Linked DNA regions of Homo sapiens. Each later gene encodes a partner of the first gene's protein in a complex. Each region holds a gene or a part of one and is shown in the gene's direction. Other genes may lie near its edges.

The links.
Region 2: the proteins of YWHAZ (region 1) and CDC25C are in contact, whole or in part, in a crystal structure (PDB 5M36), measured with the Homo sapiens proteins. Residues at the interface, in NP_001129171.1 of Homo sapiens: Lys11, Glu14, Gln15, Glu39, Val46, Lys49, Asn50, Arg56, Arg60, Val61, Ser64, Lys120, Arg127, Tyr128, Glu131, Gly169, Leu172, Asn173, Val176, Glu180, Asp213, Leu216, Ile217, Leu220, Asn224, Trp228; in NP_001274511.1 of Homo sapiens: Gly210, Tyr212, Arg213, Ser214, Pro215, Ser216, Met217, Pro218, Glu219, Asn220, Leu221, Asn222, Arg223, Arg225.
Region 3: the proteins of YWHAZ (region 1) and PI4KB are in contact, whole or in part, in a crystal structure (PDB 5NAS), measured with the Homo sapiens proteins. Residues at the interface, in NP_001129171.1 of Homo sapiens: Asn42, Ser45, Val46, Lys49, Arg56, Phe117, Lys120, Arg127, Tyr128, Gly169, Leu172, Asn173, Val176, Tyr179, Glu180, Leu216, Ile217, Leu220, Asn224, Leu227, Trp228; in NP_001317650.1 of Homo sapiens: Lys290, Arg291, Thr292, Ala293, Ser294, Asn295, Pro296, Lys297.

The regions. Positions count from the first base shown.
Region 1 is NC_000008.11:100,921,014-100,928,035, reverse strand, and holds part of YWHAZ (14-3-3 protein zeta/delta), read left to right. Parts: intron 1-2,996; coding exon 2,997-3,120; intron 3,121-3,737; coding exon 3,738-3,901; intron 3,902-3,985; coding exon 3,986-4,081; intron 4,082-7,022.
Region 2 is NC_000005.10:138,328,786-138,335,769, reverse strand, and holds the start of CDC25C (M-phase inducer phosphatase 3), read left to right. Parts: upstream 1-3,965; 5' UTR 3,966-4,150; coding exon of another isoform or gene 4,151-4,175; intron 4,176-4,551; coding exon of another isoform or gene 4,552-4,589; coding exon 4,590-4,783; intron 4,784-6,122; coding exon 6,123-6,217; intron 6,218-6,984. UniProt on the Homo sapiens protein: Functions as a dosage-dependent inducer in mitotic control. Tyrosine protein phosphatase required for progression of the cell cycle. When phosphorylated, highly effective in activating G2 cells into prophase.
Region 3 is NC_000001.11:151,303,398-151,310,419, reverse strand, and holds part of PI4KB (phosphatidylinositol 4-kinase beta), read left to right. Parts: intron 1-164; coding exon 165-209; intron 210-2,230; exon of another isoform or gene 2,231-2,253; intron 2,254-2,618; coding exon 2,619-2,846; intron 2,847-4,056; coding exon 4,057-4,284; intron 4,285-6,769; coding exon 6,770-6,879; intron 6,880-7,022. UniProt on the Homo sapiens protein: Phosphorylates phosphatidylinositol (PI) in the first committed step in the production of the second messenger inositol-1,4,5,-trisphosphate (PIP). May regulate Golgi disintegration/reorganization during mitosis, possibly via its phosphorylation.

The DNA.
Region 1 (7,022 bases):
AGTGTTGGGATTACAGGCGTGAGCCACCATGCCCAGCCACCTTTCTCAACTCTTATGGTCAGCATCTCACCAGAAACACTTGCCACTTGTTTGGTTCTTTTGGTCTATCATTAGGCCAGTAAGCAGCCTGACTGCTGTTTACCCAGCCCTCCTGTTACTTGTGGGTTCTAACAAATAGCTTTAAAGTTGTTTTATGGTTAATTCAGTGTTCAGCTTTGGGGAAAGAAGTGCTTAACTGCCATTTTAATTCCCAGGGAACTGCTTAGTTCAGCATATTACCCAGGTAGAAAGTTACTACCTACAAAAGATAGATTACTACTTTTAGTAGCATTTATCAACACCTTTCCTAAAAAAATTTAAGTTTTTAGTACAGCTTTAAAATTTTACATCTTAAGTGACTGGTTCACTCTTAAGTAACTGCATGTGTTTATGGCCTTCATCTCTGCATACATAGAGGGGGTTAAAGTTACCGAAAAGTGAAAGACGTGATTAGGCAGTGTTACTCTTTTTGAGACAGCCTCACTGTCACCCTGTCCTAGAGTACAGTGGTATAATTCAATTACAGATCACTGCAGCCTCAAACTCCTGGACTCAGATGATCCTCCTGTCTCAGCCTTCCAAGTAGCTGGGACTATAGGGGTGTGCCACCACACCTGGTTAACTTTTAAATTTTTTTGTAGAGGCAGGATCTCATGTTCACCGGGGTGGTCTCAAACTCCTGGACTCAAGAAGTGATCCTCCCACCTCAGCCTCCCAAAGTGTTGGGATTACAGGAGTGAGCCACCGTGCCCTGCAATTCTTGTAAAGTGTATTGTAATGGAAGGAATGATAGCCTTGTCTCTACAGCTAGATTATGAATTACCAGAATATTGTGCTTCCAGCTTCTAGCATGGTGTCTGGTGTTATTGTGATAATAGAAATAAAATTTTAAGTGCTTACTCCTAAGTGCTTACCTGTATTTTTTCTCAATAATCTTAGAGGTCTCTGCCTTACAGGTGAGATAACTGAATCATTGAGATTAAGTAGTTCACACGGTGTATAGTGCTGTAATTCAAAACCAGACTCACCCCAAAGCCACTTATGTTTATACCATCTCCCATAGTTGAATGAATAATACAATTTGTGTAACAATGAAACTTTTGAAAATCCTGGTCATTTGTTTCTTAAAACCATTGTTTTTAAGTGGAAAGACTCACTTGACTATTTTAAATGCAAGTGTCTTCCACTGTTTGAGGCAGATCTCCACAGAGCAACCATAGGTGGTAAAAAGCATTGTATTCAAAGGACAAAACACTTTTGCAGCTAAGAGAACTTTGAATATGAAAGTATGAATGTGGTGTAAGACAGAGGTTGCTATCCTAACCAAAACGTTCTTCTGATTTCCGGCCAGTAATTTTATTTTATTTTTATTTATTTTGAGATGGAGTCTTGCTCTGTCATCCAGGCTGCAGTGCAGTGGTGCAACCTCGGCTCACTGCAGCCTCTATCTCTCGGGCTCAAGCAGTTCTCCTGCCTCAGCTGGGATTACAGGCGCCCGTCACCACGCCTGGCTAATTTTTGTATTTTTAGTAGAGACAGGGTTTCACCATGTTGACGAGGCTCACCTCAAGTGATCCTGCCACCCTAGCCTCCCAGAGTGCTGGGATTACTGGCATGAGCCACTGTGCCCGGCCTCAGGCCAGTATTTTTAAATATCGGTTAATAATTGCAGGAAACATCATTTCAGGTTGACTTTTCTCACCTTTAACCTCTTTATATAGCACAGTGCAATCTGGCCCTACTGCCACTTCATCTGGGTTATCTGTAGCTTGAGTTGTAAAAAAAAAAAAAAAAAAAATTGGGGGAAGAAGTTGGGTTAAAACTGTTCACCTACCCAGCATTGGAACATAATGGGTAAACAAAAAGTTGGAGTTACCATTTAAAAGCATTTTTCAAATTTATATTTTATATATAAGTAGGTGCTATATAAACTAATACTTTTTTTTTGTAAGAATGGATTTGGAATTTAGCTCAGCTGAAAATTGACTTCACCTTGATTCTCAGAGTGTACTTGAACTTTAAAGGAAGTGGGGTAGTGAGAATGGGTGGTTGGGGTTTTTTTGCTTTAATGTTTACCTAATTCTACTACTAGAATTATTTTTCTCCCCCTTAACTGGAAAGAAAAAAATTACACATTTATTGAGACTTCTTCCCATCCCCAACACAATGATCTAATCTTTTTGCTTTAAAATCAGTTAAAGAGTGTAATTTTTAAAATCCTAATCAAATGACTCAGATTGTAATAGTAGTTTTAGACAGAATTTTATAGGATGATGTTTTAATTTTATCTGTTGTCTGGGATGATCTGTAATCGTGTATCTTACTAGCCGAAAATGACTTCAATGAGATTAAAGGTCTGCTCTTTAAAATCTGTAAGTCTCCTACCACTGTCTTTAGGAAAAATAAAACTTTTGAACGGTTTTTTTATCTGTTGTGAGGTTTGCTTGAATTGTGTTGTTATAAATGAAGTTTATTTTGTTCCTCCTTCTCTGGCATGGACTCCTTAAGTGTCTTACATTATTGGTTTCTGCTTTAGTCATTTCTCCAGAGTCCCAAAAGGTTCATCCCGTATGTTCTTTCTATTTTCATGTCATGACCACATGAAACTTCAGATGGAAAGCTTGCCAGCTCATTAGAAAATGTTCCTAAATGTGAACGGTCATGCCCCACATTCATGAAGTCAGCATGTAAATAGATAACATTGTCAGGGACCAATGTTCAATTTTATTGTCCTCAAATAATAAACTGAACACTAACTTCAAACTTAAAATATTGCTGCCCAAAGCATTCTGCTTTAAACCACAAATTCATGTGCCAGCTGCATTCACAATTGTATTGACAGTGACTGGGTGTTTAAGTTTTATAACTTAGGCTATAGTTTGTTCTTTAAGAAATGCAAGTTCTTTCAGTTTTGTAAATGTTTTATTCTCACTATGTCTGTTTCTTTTCTTCTTAAGTCTCTTTTGGAAAAGTTCTTGATCCCCAATGCTTCACAAGCAGAGAGCAAAGTCTTCTATTTGAAAATGAAAGGAGATTACTACCGTTACTTGGCTGAGGTTGCCGCTGGTGATGACAAGAAAGGTATGCTGTTTTTAAACCTGTTGGTTGAACTTGTATAAGATAACATAGTGAGGAAGAGTCTCTGAAGCGTACATAATGTCTTGTTTTGAATTGCTTAGAGTGCCGAATAAGGAGTAGCAGTGCTCTTTGTGTTCTGAGAATACACATCTACTGCCTCATACTGCTATTCTAAAATAAATGCTTTCTGAAAAGCCAATATTGTGTACAGGGATGTTTTTTCAAGATTTTAAGAAAAGTGACCAGCCTGAGCAACATCTCTCTCTACAAAAAATATTTTGAAAATTAGCTGGGCATGGTGGTGCAAGCCTTTGGTCCCAGCTAATCTGGAGGCTGAGGTGGGAGGATTGCTTGGGTCTGGGATGTCAAAACTCGTCAATTTTTTAAAAACATAACAATAATGAGATTATAAAGTTGTTTTATCTTGACATTGATCAATGGCTAGTGTGTACCAGGAGAAAGCTCCCTTTAAAAAAAAAAAAGGACCTTGTTCAATTAACAAATATTAAGCTGTTACAGGTTAGTATTTCAAAGGATATGTGAGATATTAAAGGTTTGGTTTGAGGGGTGAAGATATAATGCACACTTTATCTCAGTACGTTTTGGTGTGTCTTATCCAGGGATTGTCGATCAGTCACAACAAGCATACCAAGAAGCTTTTGAAATCAGCAAAAAGGAAATGCAACCAACACATCCTATCAGACTGGGTCTGGCCCTTAACTTCTCTGTGTTCTATTATGAGATTCTGAACTCCCCAGAGAAAGCCTGCTCTCTTGCAAAGACAGTATGTATTTTACCTGTTACGTAGAAATTTAGCAGTCTTTATTATTTGAGCACTGAAATGTAATGTACTATTTTTAAATCGTAGGCTTTTGATGAAGCCATTGCTGAACTTGATACATTAAGTGAAGAGTCATACAAAGACAGCACGCTAATAATGCAATTACTGAGAGACAACTTGACAGTAAGTACATAACAGCATCATTAGTGATGAATGTGGTTGAAGAGGTTATGTTTTACTCTAGGGAATTTTTTTTTTTATTAAATACATCTTTTAAAATTTTTTCTCAACACATTTCATAGGCTCTCATAAATATATCTCAGCTACTATTAAAGTCCTATGAAGGAAAATTACAGAAACTGAAATATTAGACTGAGAACTAAAAAATACACACATTGATGAGTTACCTGTCTTGTTAAAATTTGTTAGTATCAAAAGTGTGCTGAGACTCTACATGTTTTAGTTCCTTTAAGAATGATTTTCTTGCCCATCAAGTTGCCTCCATATTGGTAAAGATAATGGTAGGGAATTAATAACTTGAGTTACAAAATCTCAGGTATCTACAGAATCCAAGTGGAAGTCTATTTTGCCTAGCTTCTTATTTTAAATGACTTAATATGAAAGGTCGTGATTGTCCTTGGGATACTGCAGATGTATAAAAAGAAACAGTGTCACTATCACACCAGGAACATCAACATAATTCCCTAATAATGTTTGAATATCTAAATAATACTTGAATTCCAATTATCTCTCTTTTTTTAAGTTATTTGAATTGGGATTCAAATTCAGTCCACAATGCAGTTGATTTGTATGTCTCGTTTGTTTCTTAGGTCTTCTCATTCTTCTCCTTCAGATAAATACTAGATTTGAAATTTTGAGGCTTAGGTGAAAAAATTATCAAGCATTTGCTGTGTGTCAGGTAAAGAGGTAGGAATTGCAGATCATAATCTAGGTATTACTGTTTTTTTGTTAGACTTCTAGGGCCATTTCTCTTGGGGACTATGTAATCTCATTTTATACATTTCTCTTCCAACTTTATTCTAGTCCACTGCCATTTTCTATAAACCAGTTCTATATGCTAGTGCTGAAAATCTTGAAGAGTTTTTTGAATAGTATTGTATACTTGTTTATTAAACCTAAAATTACTTTATTAGCACAATTTGGAGCTATCTATAAACTTTTCTGATACTTGAGTCAAGATAACAAGCCACAGTAAAGAATGAAAGAATCTTATATATCAAACATAAGAAGCACTTTGTTAACTAACTTTAGTATTAAGGATTTTTCTTTTCTAGTTTGAAGTGATGACATTTTTAAAGTGATGACCTGAGACCTAGATACTGTGTTTTGTTCACATCACTTTTTGAGAGGCCCTGATCTACTGTCTGCTTCCAACTGAATTTTGCTATCAGTATAGCATGAAGAGCGCATATTGCAATAAGAAAACCAGGGTTGGCCGGGCGTGGTGGCTCACGCCTGTAATCCCAGCACTTTGGGAGGCCGAGGCGGGCGGATCACCAGGTCAGGAGTTCAGGAACAGCTTGGCCAAGATGGTGAAACCCCATCTCTACTAAAAATACAAAAATTAGCTGGGCATAGTGGTGGGCACCTGTAATCCCAGCTACTCGGGAGGCTGAGGAAGAGAATTGCTTGAACCCGGGAGGCAGAGGTTGCAGTGAGCTGAGATCACACCGCTACACTCCAGCCTGGGCAAAAGAGCGAGACTCTGTCTCAAAAAAAAAAAAAAAGAAAAGAAAAAACCAGGGTTTTGATTCTAATTCTGTCACTACTTGTATGTCTTCTCTGAGCCTTATTAGTGTCAGCTGTCACCATTATAGGTTGATTGGAACATTTATCTGTCAAGAAAAGAAATTATCCCAAAACTTAATATTTCATTCTGAATTTGGTTGACCAAGACTGTCAACACATTACTCTAGAAAAAGAAATATTTTGTATCAAATTTGCATGTTTATACAGAAAATTCAAGAATCCTTGAAAGTTAGAACAGGAAAGAGACATTAGAAACAATTTCATCTTGCAATTACAAAACCCCTTGTTTGACAGGAGGAGCACACAGTTTCCAAGAGGTCATTTGGCTATCTGTATGACCTTGGAAGTAGTCTCCTTTCCAGGCCAGAGATATATTTGCTTAGTAGATAAATGAAGCTAATGGATGATTTGGGGAATATAAAAATAATAATTAGTGTATTTTCCCCTTCCCCTCCGTTTTCATGTGTAAGTCATATATAAAATTTAAGATTGTCTTGAATCCTTTTGTAATTACCTCTGAAAATCACTAGAGAGTGGTTAAGACTTCAACATTTTTAACATTGGAGCAGGTGGAATAGAGTTCATAACCCTGCCACCTATGGGACAACTTTCATTTTTACCTGTTAAAAGATTTGGTTCTGGTTTTTGTCCAGCATTTATTTTGAATCATATGATAGGGTAGTGCAAAAGTAATTGAGGGTTTTGCCATTTAAAGTAATGGCAAGAGCTGCGATTACTTTTGCACCAACCTGATAAATAAAGGTTTGTTTTTCTAAGCTTAAAGTGTTAGAAAAGCTAGATTTGTAGTTTAGCTCAGAGTTGAGGCTGGTTCTTGAATTTCATGGAGTATAGGATTCTGTTTGGAGTGTGAGTCACTTTAAGATCTACCAGTGGAGAGTAGTCAACCCTAGCTCCTTCAGCATGGGCCAAATTAGATGCTTCTGGTATAGTTGCACTCACCTTGGACGTCCATCTTTCATATTGGGGCTCTTTAGGTTCTGACACCTATTGATGCTTAGTTTTTAAAAAATAATTTAGGGCCTGGGCACAGTGGCTCACACCTGTAATCTCACCACTTTGGGAGGCCGAGGTGGGTGGATCACGAGATCAGATCAAGACCATCTTGGCCAACATAGTGAAACCCCGTCTCTCCTAAAAATACAAAAATTAGATGGGTGTGGTGGCACATGCCTGTAGTCCCAGCTACTCAGGAGGCTGAGGCAGGAGAATCGCTTGAACCTGGGAGGCGGAGGGTTCATTGAGCCAAGATCACGCCACTGCACTCCAGCCTGGTGACAGAGCGAGACTCCATCTCAAAAAAAAAGTATTATTTCTTGTAATTTCTCTTCACCTT
Region 2 (6,984 bases), on another chromosome or scaffold:
ACCCTGCAAGTCAAGTTTCAGGCCTCATTTCAAAGGAAGGTTACATCCCCTTTCGTCATCTATAAAATGGCCTCCCAGTGCAGCCCAACACTCCTACCCATAATTAAATCTCCTTATTCCACTTTTAGTTCCCAAGGATTTTTTACTCATGTCCTGCTCTTTCCCTGCTGCCCCCTTTTTAGTCTTTTGTTCTTGAGCCACTGCTTTGAACTGCATCTTAATTATGCCCTCATGGGCCAAACCCCATCTGTGACCCTGCTCCAGTGGGTTTCAGCAAAGGATACTCTCCATCCATATTCTGAGGGCTCCAGGGCCTGGAGCCAGTCATCCAGGAGGTCATCCAAAGGAGTGGAATCCATTGGTTCTAAGACTCTTCATTCCCTGCCTAGGAAGGAACAGCCGAGTTGGAGGAACATGCACTCGATTCAGACCTTCCCTTTTCACCCAGTGAAAGCTAAACCTCTGCAAAGTGGGGAGAAGTAGGGCTAAGCCTACCAGTCATAAAAAGAACCAGGAATAGAAAACACACCCCTCAGCCCCTCTGCCCTGCAGAGGCTGGCTGGGAGGATCCCAGGAATGCAGGGCTCTTCTCCACTGCCTGATCTGGGCATCCCAGGAGTGATGGCTGTACCTCCTGTTCTTGTTTGGTGTTTCAGGGTGAAGCCCGGGCTGTCACTGTGCCCTGGCAACAACATGTATGAGTCAGACTGAGGTCAAGGTGAAGGAACACAGCTCACTGCTTATCACAGTGAATCAGGAGCCTAGATAGGGATTCCCCAAGGATGACATAGGATCAATGCCCTCAATCCAACAGAAAAAGTAAATCTTCAAATCAGATTAAACACCAAACTTCCCACCTCCCTAATATTCTTTCTTCTGGGAAGGATAACTTAGATATATTCCAACACCCTCATAAATCAAGATATAAAAGACAATATTTGACTTCCCTTTAAAATAATTCTACCATTTCACAGTTTGTATGTATGCATGTAAACTTACATGTAATTAGCTAAGTATGTTGCAATTAGCTAAGCCAGCTGGAATCATGAGGAGATAGTGAAAATGTTTGCTAGGAAAACAACCTCATTAACAAACGTAGAGCTTTTAAGAGTTTTGTTGGCTGGGCATGGTGGCTCACACCTGTAATCCCAGCACTTTGGGAGGCCGAGGTGGGTGGATTACCTCAGGTCAGGAGTTTGAGACCAGCCTGGCCAACACAGCGAAACCCTGTCTCAACTAAAAATACAAAAATTAGCCAGGTGTGGTGGCGCATGCCTGTAATCCCAGCTACTCAGGAGGCTGAGGCAAGAGAATCACTTGAACAGAGGTTGCAGTGAGCTGAGATTGCGCCATTGCACTCCAGCCTAGGCAACAAGAAAGAAACTGTCTCAAAAAAAAAAAGTTTTTTTGTTGTTGTTTTTAGGAGACAGTCTCACTATGTTGCCCAGGCTGGCCTCAAACTCCTGGGCTCAAGTGATCCTCCCAAGTAGCTGGGACTACAGGCGCACCACTGCATCTGTAAAAAGTCTTAAGGGCGGCCGGGCGCAGTGGCTCATGCCTGTAATCCCAGCACTTTGGGAGGCCGAGGTGGGTGGATCATTTGAGGTCAGGAGTTCCAGAACAGCCTGGACAATATGGTGAAACCCCACCTCTATTAAAAATACAAAAATCAGCCAGGCGTGGTGGCGGGCACCTGTAGTCCCAGCTACTCGGGAGGCTGAGGCAGGAGAATAACTTGAACCCAGGAGGCAGAGGTTGCAGTGGGCCAAGATTGCGCCACTGTACTCTAGCCCGGGAGAGAGCGAGACTCCATCTTAAAAAAAAAAAAAATACTCTTAAGAGCTAGGTGTATAAGTTCCATTTGAGAAATCTCAGAAACTTATTTTTGGGGCTAGATTTTTGGAGAATTTGTTTTAGGAATGCTGCAACTTTGTCAGAGTGCTCAGATTTTAGTATATTTCCATCACCTGACATTGAACTAAAGCCACTTGGCTGACACCTTTGTTGTGACCACCCACAACTGCACTTACTTGAGGACCTGGTGCAGAAAGCACTGGTAGCCAGGTGTGCACTTGCCATAATCTATCTGCTTTTGCCACCAATAGAGAATAACTTTGTCTCTACTTCCCACCTGCAGGGAAGTATACAATTTCCCACAAAGTGTGATTATACTGTAGTCGTCAAAGCAGATAACAACTCATCCCACACTCCCTTAATCCCCAGCCTGATTTTCAAACTCACCTGGCATAGCAAGGTTCTGTGCTAACTCCTACACTCACTGTCTGTATCCTAGAGGACAAAGAATCTTCACACATCTCCTTTCTGGGGAAGCAGGTTCTGCAGATGAAAAGGGTATTAGGATAAAAACCAGCTGGCTACACTGTGCCTCTCAGCCACTACCACCACCAAGATCCTGACAACAGACACAAGTTGCATTTTGACTTTTGTTTCTCAAAGCATGATCTGCAAGCCGTCTGCATGGGTAGCACCTGGGGGCCTTGATAATGACCCCACTTTAGACCTATCGAATTATCGTTTTTGGAGCCTACATCTTAAAGAGCTTCCAAGGTTATTTTGAACATTTTTATTATGGAAATTTTCAAATATACATTGAAGTAAGAAGTATGGGGTAATACCTTACCACGCAAAGTATGGTCGTAGGACCAGCTACCTCACCATCAGCTGGGGGCTTGTTAGAAGGGCAGAATCTTGGGCCGCAACCGCAACCCAGACATCCCGAATCAGAATCTGCATTTAGCAGGTCCTCAGGTGGTTAGTGTGCAAATTAAACCTTGAGAAGCACAGATATGATGGACCCTCCTGCCCCCATCACTCAACAGTCAGGGTCAATCTTGTATCATCAATACCTTCCCCCAGCACAGGATTATTTAAAAGCAAATCCCTAACATTAGGAATGTCTTTTTGTTTGTTTCACTCTAATGCCCAGGCTGGAGTGCAGTGGCGCAACCTCTGTCTCCCGAGTTCAAGCAGTTCTCATGCCTCAGCCTCCCAAGTAGCTGGGATTACAGGTGTGTGCCACCACAACCGGCTAAATTTTGTATTTTTAGTAGAGACGGGGTTTCATCATGTTGGCCAGGCTGGTTTTGAACCCCTGACCTCATGTAATCTGCCCGCCTCGGCCTCCCAAAGTGCTGGGATTACAGGTGTGGGCCAACGCGTCCGGCCAATAATTTATAAATATCACCTCGTCAATGTTCAAATTTTCATTAATAACCAATCTTTGAGGTCCTCTGGATTGCGATAAGGATTATACCAAGATGATTTAATTCCTCCACTTTCCCTGCAACGGAATTTCTTTTTACCCACGTGAGCTAGAGTCTCTGAGATGCTGCACACTAAAAGAAACACCAAACAAAGCTCTTGGAAGGGGCTAATGCCTCTCAGCATAAACACACACACCCGTCTCGCCCCAACACTTGCCACGCCGGCAGCAAACGCTCCATCTCCCGTGGAAGGCCAGCAAAACTTAGAAGAAAACGTCCGCGAAAACGGCACGAGAAAGAAGCGAAGAAAATGAAACGCTTACAACACCCTCCACCCAAAATAATCTCTCCTAGTATTACCCTAGTGAATGGACATCACTAGTAAGGCGCGGTTTAAATCTCCCGGGGTTCGTGGGGCTGAGGGAACGAGGAAAACAGAAAGGGTGTGGAGATTGGTGAGAGGGAGAGCCAATGATGCGCCAGGCTCCCCGTGAGGCGGAGCTTACCCCGCAGCCTGCCTAACGCTGGTGGGCCAAACACTATCCTGCTCTGGCTATGGGGCGGGGCAAGTCTTACCATTTCCAGAGCAAGCACACGCCCCCAGGTGATCTGCGAGCCCAACGATAGGCCATGAGGCCCTGGGCGCGCGCGCGGAGATTGGCTGACGCAGCTTAGAGGCGAGCGGGGATAGGTTACTGGGCTGGCGGAAGGTTTGAATGGTCAACGCCTGCGGCTGTTGATATTCTTGCTCAGAGGCCGTAACTTTGGCCTTCTGCTCAGGGAAGACTCTGAGTCCGACGTTGGCCTACCCAGTCGGAAGGCAGAGCTGCAATCTAGTTAACTACCTCCTTTCCCCTAGATTTCCTTTCATTCTGCTCAAGTCTTCGCCTGTGTCCGATCCCTATCTACTTTCTCTCCTCTTGTAGGCAAGCCTCAGACTCCAGGCTTGAGGTAAGTCCGCAGCCGTCTCCGCCACGGAATCACGGAGACCCCATTGTCCCCCTTAGGGTCCAGTCGGGCCCCCACAGACAGAGGTTGGGAGGGCCGAATGGGGACTATCGCGAGTTACGAGACCCGGGTTCTTTCTAGTCAGGAGTCTCGAGCTGTGTGGCGTGGAACAAGTCAAAATCCTCTCTTCATTCCATCTTTAAGGTCCTAAGGTTGCCTCTCGTCGGTGAATTCAGGTTCTAACCTTAAGCCAGGCTGTGAATCACCCTTCGGGGTTGCCCCTCTTCCAGTGTTGATTCGCCTGGCTGGAAAGGGTGGAGGAGTTTAGGAAAGCTGAGGGAACTGTGATGTACCGATTTAGATGACGTTTTCCTCCTAGCTAGGTTTTGTTTTTCTCCTGGTGAGAATTCGAAGACCATGTCTACGGAACTCTTCTCATCCACAAGAGAGGAAGGAAGCTCTGGCTCAGGACCCAGTTTTAGGTCTAATCAAAGGAAAATGTTAAACCTGCTCCTGGAGAGAGACACTTCCTTTACCGTCTGTCCAGATGTCCCTAGAACTCCAGTGGGCAAATTTCTTGGTGATTCTGCAAACCTAAGCATTTTGTCTGGGTAAATATACTTTTATTTTTACACTGTATTGCCTTTGCTATTTCCAAACAGTTGGGTTTGTTTGTTGGTTTGTTTTCAATTATCCCGGCTCAAAGGTCAGGCTTTAAGTCTCAACTCTGCCCTTGACTGTGTAACCCTTTTGAGTCTCACCTTCTTTTCTGTGACAAGAAATAATCTCAGCCAGGCGAGGTGGCTCATGCCTGTAATCTCCGCACTTTGGGAGGCCAAGGAGGGCGGATCGCCTGAGTCTAGGAGTTCAAGACCAGCCTGGGCAACATGGCAAGACGCCGTCTCTACAAAAAATATTAAAAGTTAGCTGAGTGTGGTGGTGTGCACCTATAGTCCCAGCAACTCGGGAGGCTGAGGTGGGAGGATTGCTTGAGCCCGGGAGGTGGAGGCTGCAGTTAGCCAAGATCGCCTCACTGCACTTCAGCCTGGGAAACAGAGTGAGACTCTATCTCAAAAAGAAAAGAAAAGACAAAGAAATAATAATCGCTTCCTATCTTACTAGGATCTTGTGAGAATCAAATGATGTGATAACTGGGAAAAGTCTTTGAAAACCGCTGCATTACGAGTCGGTCACTTTATTAGTATTAATATTAGTGTTATTGCAGTTGTACTTTGAATTCTGATCATACCATGTCTCAACTAGCAAAGAGAAGTAGTACCTGAGAAAAACTAGGGACCCCAGGGAGAAATCAAGCCTGTGTTCATAGTGCTCAGGACCGGGAATGTGGAGTCAAGATCCCCCTCGGCCAATAAACTCTGGGCCTCATTTAAAAAAAAAAAAATTATCTGTTTCAGTATGTTGGTAAGGAGAAAATAAAGTACAGATTATGGTAGTGGGAGATTTTTCTCAGCCCAGTCTGATATATTTCCCAAAAGCAATTAGATTTATTTGGACACTGTTCAGATGATCTGATAGTCATTAAGGGGTGTTTCAAATGAACAGGCTTGGCCAGGCGTTGTGGCTCACACCTGTAATCCCAGCACTTTGGAAGGCCGAGGTGGGTGGATCACCTGAGGTTAGGAGTTTAAGACCAGCCTGGCTGACATGGTGAAGCCCCATCTCTACTACAAATACAAAAATTAGCTGGGCGTGGTGGCAGGCGCCTGTGATCCCAGCTATTTGGGAGGCTGAGGCAGGAGAATCGCTTGAACCCGGGAGGCGGAGGTTGCAGTGAGCCAAGATCGTGCCACTGCACTTGAGCTGGGGGGACAGAGCAAGACTCCACTGCAAAAAAAAAAAAAAAAAAAAAAGAAGAGGATGACATGATCTTTGACTTTTAAGGATATAATAATCTAATGGGAATTTCGATGTACTATTATGTCTCAACAGAGGAACCCCAAAACGTTGCCTCGATCTTTCGAATCTTAGCAGTGGGGAGATAACTGCCACTCAGCTTACCACTTCTGCAGACCTTGATGAAACTGGTAGGGAGAAGGGAGATAAAGGCCTCAAAGGGAAGAATAACTTTTAAGGGAGAAAACAGGGAAGGAGGATAGAGACGGAAGGTGGTGAAAGTATAAAAAGAATCTGCCTAGAGAGATGGAATTTTGTGGGTAACTAGAGGATTTTTGAGAATGATTAAGCCAATGGGAAGAGAAAGATAATAACACTAATAGGAGCTACTTTGCATATGAAAATGTTAGACAAGTAGGAATATATTTTGTTGACTGATTAATGGTGGGAATGAAAGTATAGTCATTAGGATATGAGAAGTTTTGTGCCTCAGTCTAATCTCAGCAGAGGCAAAGAAACCAGCATAAAGAAATATGTTGTTGGCCAGGTGCAGTGGCTCATGCCTGTAATCCCAGCACTTTGGGAGGGCAAGGCGGGCGGGTCACGAGGTCAAGAGATCGAGACCATCCTGGCCAACATGGTGAAACCCCATCTCTACTAAAAATACAAAAGTTAGTTTGGCATGGTGGCACGTGCCTGTAGGCCCAGCTACTGGGGAGGCTGAGGCAGGAGAATCTCTTGAACCCGGGAGGTGGAGGTTGCAGTGAGCCAAGATAGCACCAATGCACTCCCGCCTGGCGACAGAGCGAGACTGCATCTCAAAAAAAAAGAAATATGTTGTCAACTAATTTTTATATGTTTTATATGAAATATTCCAAAAGGAATGTTTCATAAGTTAACCTTCCAGAATTCTAATTTCAGATTTTCTGAGTGATAACCTTTCTTTTCTACCCATAAG
Region 3 (7,022 bases), on another chromosome or scaffold:
GGCAAGTAGCATTTCTGAGTTGACTTTCTTTTATTAAAGCAGAAAGGTAGAACTTCACTAGAGAAGCAGTTACGATCCAAGTTGGAGCTAAATTCTTTACCTTTGTCTCTCTCCCCTCCCTTCCCACCCCCTCCTTCTCCCTTTGCCCTCTGGCCCTTTCCCAGGAGCTCTCCTCCAGCACCGAGAGTATTGATAATTCATTCAGTTCCGTAAGTGGGGCCAGGCTGGGACGGGGTGGCAGGCTCCCCCAGTGGCCGCATTTCCTCTCCGTCCCCAGGTCTTCTGAGCCCCCAGGCCAAGGCTGGAGTTAAAATGCCCCTTTTCTTACTGGGAGATCAGCTCCTCCCTCCCAGACCTCCCAGATCTGCTGGAGTTCCCCTGACCTTTGCGGTGGAAATCCTGAGCCCAGGCTGAGATGAGCTCAGCTGATCCTTCTCTCAGAGACAGCTGGAGTACAGTGCTGCTCAGCCCCCAGCTCCTGAGTGTCTGGAGCAAACAGCTGGGAGAGAGGTAGAATTCACTCCTGGATTAGAGCCAAAAACTGCCTGGCAGAAACCCCCAGGATCCTGTTTCTCCCACCCAGAACCCTTTCCCCATGGCTTCTGCCGTCAGATTATCAAATATTTATTCATAATCTTCTAAATGCTAGGCCCTGTGCTGGTGAGCTGACTCCAAAAACAAATAGGACTTGGCCTGAAGGAAAGTTTTGCCTCTCCACAACTGGTTTTCTTTTTTAACTTCAACCACATTTTTTCCAGGTCTGAGTTCTTCCCTTTTCCCAGCTCACTGCCCAGGATGTTCCTTAATCCCCTCTCCTTTCTTGTTCCCTCTGGACTAACCCCTGACCCTTTGGTCCCACAGGGTCTTGGACCTTGTTGCTGGGCAAAGACGTGAGAGGAAATGCAGGACCTCTGGGAGTTTGGCTGATTTTTTTTATATTTTCTATTTGATTTGTCTATCAAATCAGTTTTCTCTGTTCTGTGCTAATCCCCTTTCAGTCATGATTCCTATCTCCTCTCATGTGGCAGAGCCTCTCTCTTGAGGCCTGGGGTCACATTTCTAACATGCTCACGTAACTTAGGGGCCCCTAACCCAAATGCTGATTTGAGAATGGGAAGGAATTCTGCCTTTTCTAATCTGAGATGATTATGAATTGGGTGGGGTAGAGGGTCCTTGGGACAGAGATCAGTTGCCATCTGAGTGGATTCAGATGAAGGAAGAAGTGAGTCTTCAAATTTCCTCTTATTTTCTTTCTCTATTAGACCCCCAGGATATTTCCAGGGACCTTAGAAACCCAATTCCATTGTTTTCCTTTTCTTTATCTCTTTTCAACAATGTCACTTAAAGCATTCCTGAAGGATTCAGACACCCTCTTTCAGTCCCTATGTGGCACTCTGAACCATCTCCCAAGAGGCAGAGGCTGGAATGAGCTTTTCCTTTGAATCCTGGCACTGTTGCACATGTAGAGGTAGGCCTGATACTCCCCAGTTTTCAAAAGAAGCTCTTTTAGAGTTCGAGGGAGCAAGGATAGAAATTCTCTCAATCCAGAAACTAAGCAAGACACACGGAAAGGGAGAGAAAGGCTTGGTGAGTCAAATGCTGTTTCTACAAAGGAGGGGAGATGGGATGGGGAGTTGGGTGGCTGTCTTGATAAAATGCCCCTTACGGTAGAAGGGCTTAGACTGGGAAGAGAGCCTTTCTTCGTGTCTAGCTGAGTCCCTCTTTTTCCCCACCTGCACCTTAATTCCAAGACCAACTTTGCTCTTTCTGAGGATGACTGAATTGCCCAGCACAAGGAGCCAAACTCACAGCAGGGAATTAATATGAGGAACCTAGTCACTGAGAGGTAGGGGAAGAGGACCCAAAGAGGAGTCACTAAAAGAGACAGGCCTTCAGGGCCATCATCAAGGGCTAAAAGGAGCTGTTGCTTTCTCCATCTACCTACCTCCTTCCATCTGCTTTTTCTTTCTCCTTGATTAATGCAAAGTCTGCTCATCGGCTCATCCTCTTTCCATCCCCTGCATGTGCATTGACGCCTGGTAAGAGATTGTGGGACGGACAGGGGGATACCATGGAAATCAACAGAAGTAATTTGAATGACGAGCATCTTCCCTCTTTGAAAGTGGAAATGATGTGGGGCTCCCTTCTCTAGCCTTGCGGGACTTGACGGAGCCCCTCGGCAGAGATCTAGCCCAAGGATCCAGATGGGGAGAAGGACAACCCTGTTCTTGAAAAGGGTGAAACAATTCAGGTGTAAGCAGCTCTTCTCTCTGTGGCCCTGGCTAACCTATCCAGATGTCCCCCTGCTCACTCTGAAGCCTTGGTACAGTCCTTAAGGAACCCAAGTCCAGGAGAAGAGGAGTGCATCCCAGTTACCTGGACTCATGGCCTCCCTTACCCTCAAGGGATAGCCTATAGGGAAGGAATGTGCTGGCTATTCTCAATTCAAGTTGTGAAGGGTGGGTGGAAGCTCCTACTAAGACTAAAAAGCAGCTGCTTTCCTGGAGTTCTCCAGATAGTGGGGTCCCCGGCCTGCATGGCCAGGAGTGACTGAGTGGGTGTGCCATTGTATTCTATGGTTTCTTCACCATCTTTTGTCTTACCCCAAACCCCTGTAGCCTGTTCGACTGGCTCCTGAGAGAGAATTCATCAAGTCCCTGATGGCGATCGGCAAGCGGCTGGCCACGCTCCCCACCAAAGAGCAGAAAACACAGAGGCTGATCTCAGAGCTCTCCCTGCTCAACCATAAGCTCCCTGCCCGAGTCTGGCTGCCCACTGCTGGCTTTGACCACCACGTGGTCCGTGTACCCCACACACAGGCTGTTGTCCTCAACTCCAAGGACAAGGTAGATGGGTTCTGGCCCAAACCCCTACCCTGGACGTGACTCTTCACCCATGGTTGTTCAGAGTTTGCGTGTATGACCAGTGAGGCCCTCACCAACATCCTAGACTCCCTTCATAGTTCATGATGCATATGTCAACCATGACTCTGTCTCAGTGCGATTGTGATTTTGAGAGCCCCCCTGTATCCCTTTTTGGGCTTTGTTTTTCTGGACCAAAGAAACCTAATCTTTTTAGCTTCCTTCTTGCTGTATCTTAGGAGAATTGCTCTTCACCCCACCTTATGGTCATTTTGGTAGCTTTTCTCCAGCCTTTCTATAACTCTTGGGCTTTCCAGATACAGCAACCATAAGGATAGAGAAATATTTTGTTTCTAAGACCTTTTCTGATCAGAATGAGCCGACAAAAGGAGAGAAGGATGCCCAATTCACACTGGAGAGAATTAGCTGAATTTGTGTGCTGACTGGAATGAGTATTCATGGTTCAGATTCTTCTTTTTTTTTTGAGATGGAGTCTCACTCTATTGCGGAGGCTGGAGTGCAGTGGCACAATCTTGGCTTACTGCAACCTCCGCAACCCAGGTTCAAGCGATTCTCCTGCCTTAGCCTCCTGAGTAGCTGGGATTACAGGCGCCTGCCACCACACCCGGCTAATTTTTGTAGTTTTAGTAGCGACGGGGTTTCGCCATCTTGGCCAGGCTGGTCTTGAACTCCTGACCTCATGATCCACCCGCCTCGGCCCCCCAAAGTGCTAGGATTACAGGCGTGAGCCACCGCGCCCGGCCCATATTCTTCTTTCAAAGGAAATACTGAAGTTTGGGACACTCCTTGGGACAGTGCCCAGCTTTGTCCCAGTCTTTTTGTCCACTGTAGCTCCCTGGGCCCTGTCTTCAGGACGAGCCCACAGAGGCATCTAGGCCTCCCTTACAGCCTGTAATTGATAGTCTAGAGTGGTTTGGCCCAAGCACATCATCTGTACATTTTGGAGCTCAGTTGAAATATTTTGAAGACTTAAGGATTCTGTCACACAAATTCTTTACATAGGTGATCATAGGACAAGTATCTGCCCTAAATATAGTGTTCATAGTTTCAGAGGACTATTGGATGAAGGCTGGAGCTAGGAGAAAGGACAGCAGGAAGAACCTTGCTAACAGAGTTGAGATTTGGGGGTTAGTGGTGGAAGTAAGTTGCAAATACTGTCTCACTCTTCCCCCAGGCTCCCTACCTGATTTATGTGGAAGTCCTTGAATGTGAAAACTTTGACACCACCAGTGTCCCTGCCCGGATCCCCGAGAACCGAATTCGGAGTACGAGGTCCGTAGAAAACTTGCCCGAATGTGGTATTACCCATGAGCAGCGAGCTGGCAGCTTCAGCACTGTGCCCAACTATGACAACGATGATGAGGCCTGGTCGGTGGATGACATAGGCGAGCTGCAAGTGGAGGTGAGAGGGCTTCAGGGAGGTAATGCTGGGTCACAGGAGCTTTCTCCAGGAGCTTTCACTATATTGGAAACAAGACAGCATATCCCAAGGCAGGGTAAGGCAAGTATCCTAATGAGTGGTGTAGGTAGTGAGGGGTAATATGGGGAAAGCTCTGAACAACTCTAGCCTGGAATAGATTCAGGTGGAGTTCATTTTCCAGGTGAAGGATTCAGATTTAAATGTAAAGAGGAGCTTCTAGGCCAAGGGGAGTGAGGGAAATTTAATGAAAATATTTATTGAACACCTACATAAAGTTGTCATAGAATAGCAGAGGATGAGAAGTCATACATTAATTCATTCAAGAAATTTTTATTGAGGGCCTTCTATGTGCCAGACCTGAGTGCTGTATGCTAGTGAACAAGACTTGGCCCCTGCCTACAAGGGATTTATGACCTAACTGGAAAGAGAACAAGGCCAGTAAGCAAGTAGTTGTAGTGTGGTGAGAGTCAAGTCATGGGGGAAAGGATAGGACATTATAAGAGCACCAGACTTGGGGCGGGCATCACAAGAGATTTCCTGGAGGAAGTAATCTCTCAGCTGAGGCTGGAAGCATGGGTAGGAATTAGCTGGACAAAGAGTGCTGGACAGAGGGAACACTGCATGCAAAGGCCAGAAGACAAGAGGGAGCTTGGGCCATTATAGGAATTGAAAGAAATTTTGCCTGGCTGTGATGTGCAGGTGTGAGGTAAGAAGTGGTGAAGAATAAGACTGGACACGTGGGCATGGACCAGACTATAGGAAGGACCCTGTAAGCTGGGGAAAGAAACTTGAACTTTATTCTGGGGCATGAAGAGCCAGAGCAGAATTTTGTGTAGAGCTATTAACACAGCTGGCCAGGCGCAGTGGCTCACACCTGTAATCCCAACACTTTGGGAGGCCGAGGTGGGTGGATCGCTTGAAGTCAGGATTTCGAGACCAGCCTGGCCAACAAGGTGAAACTCCATCTCCACTAAAACTAGAAAAATTATGCCGGGTGCGGTGGCGCACGCCTGTAATCCCAGCACTTTGGGAGGACAGGGCGAGCAGATCACCTGAGGTCAGGAGTTCGAGACCAGCCTGGCCAACATGGTGAAACCCCGTCTCCACTAAAAATACAAAAATTAGCCGGGCGTGGTGGCATGTGCCTGTAATCCCAGCTAATCGGGAGGCTGAGGCAGTAGAATTATTCGAACCCAGGAGGCGGAGGTTGCAGTGAACCAAGATCACGCCACTGCACTTCAGCCTGGGTGACAAGCAAAATTCCGTCTCAAAAGAAAAAAAAAAAAAAGCCAGGTGTGGTGGAACATGCCTGTAATCCCAGCTACTCGGGAGGCAAGTGATTCTTGAAGCACAAGAATCACTTGAACCTGGGAGGCGGAGGCTGCAGGGAGCTGAGATCACAGCACTGCACTCCAGCCTGGGTGACAGAGTGAGACTCTGTCTTAAAACAAAACAAAACAAAAACACAGCCAGGGCCAGGCGCGGTGGCTCACGCCTGCAATCCCAGCACTTCGGGAGGCTGAGGTGGGCAGATCACCTGAGGTCAGGAGTTCAAGAACAGCCTGACTAACATGGTGAAACCCCGTTCCTACTAAAAATACAAAAAATTAGCCAGGCATGGTGGCGCGCGCCTGTAATCCCAGCTACTCAGAAGGCTGAGGCAGGAGAATCGCTTGAACCTGGGAGGCGGAGGTCGCAGTGAGCCGAGATCACACCATTGCACTCCAGCGTGGGCAACAAGAGCGAAACTCCGTCTAAAAAAAAAAAAAAAAAACACACAGCCAGGTTTCACTTTGCCAAAAGGCAGAATCTCTGTCTTTGAGCTTATAGTCCAATTGCAGAAATTAGACATTTAAGAAAAAAAAATTTAGATATACAACAAAGCAGTGTGTACTAGGTGACAAATGGAGTTGAGAAGAAATGCTCTGGTATGAAGGACAGAAGAGACTTGACATGGGCCTTGGGGTCTGGTAGAATATTCTGTATTTAGAGAGAGATGAGAAGATAAGATTGAATGACTTAGATTGAAGAAACTGTCAGAAGCTAGTCTGCAAAGAGTCTGCTTTGGACCCTAGGGGAGAACGCATCCCTATCCTTGGGGGACTCTCAGTGAGGCTGAAATTTTGAGCTCCTGTAATGGTCATGGCAGTGGTTTGCAAACTTTAGTGCATTGGAAGTCTTCTGGAGAACTTGTTAAAAATTCAGACTTTCAGATCCCATTCCTAGTAATTATAATTCAGATTGATGGTGGGGCCTGGGAATCTGCATTCTGGGTAATTCTACTGCAGGTAGTTCACATGTTGAGAAATGCTGCTCTGGGCAGCCTGGGGTCCCAGTAACCAACATGGTGTGTAAGCAGAGTTTGAAAGAGAGGGATGAGCATGCTGCAGTGATAGCAAGCAAGCAGGAGGGGAAAGACGGGAGACCTATACTTTAGCACTTCTGACCAGCACTCCCCTTTCTCCAGCTCCCCGAAGTGCATACCAACAGCTGTGACAACATCTCCCAGTTCTCTGTGGACAGCATCACCAGCCAGGAGAGCAAGGAGCCTGTGTTCATTGCAGCAGGGGACATCCGGTATGGCCAGATCACATTGCCCCTCATTTTTCATCCCTCTTTCAGGAACTTCCCATCTCTTTGTTACCTTCCTCTCCATCTCAATCATCTGTTGTTGGCCTGTGTCTTTCCCTCTTTCATTCTGTCCTTGTTTGGGGCCACCA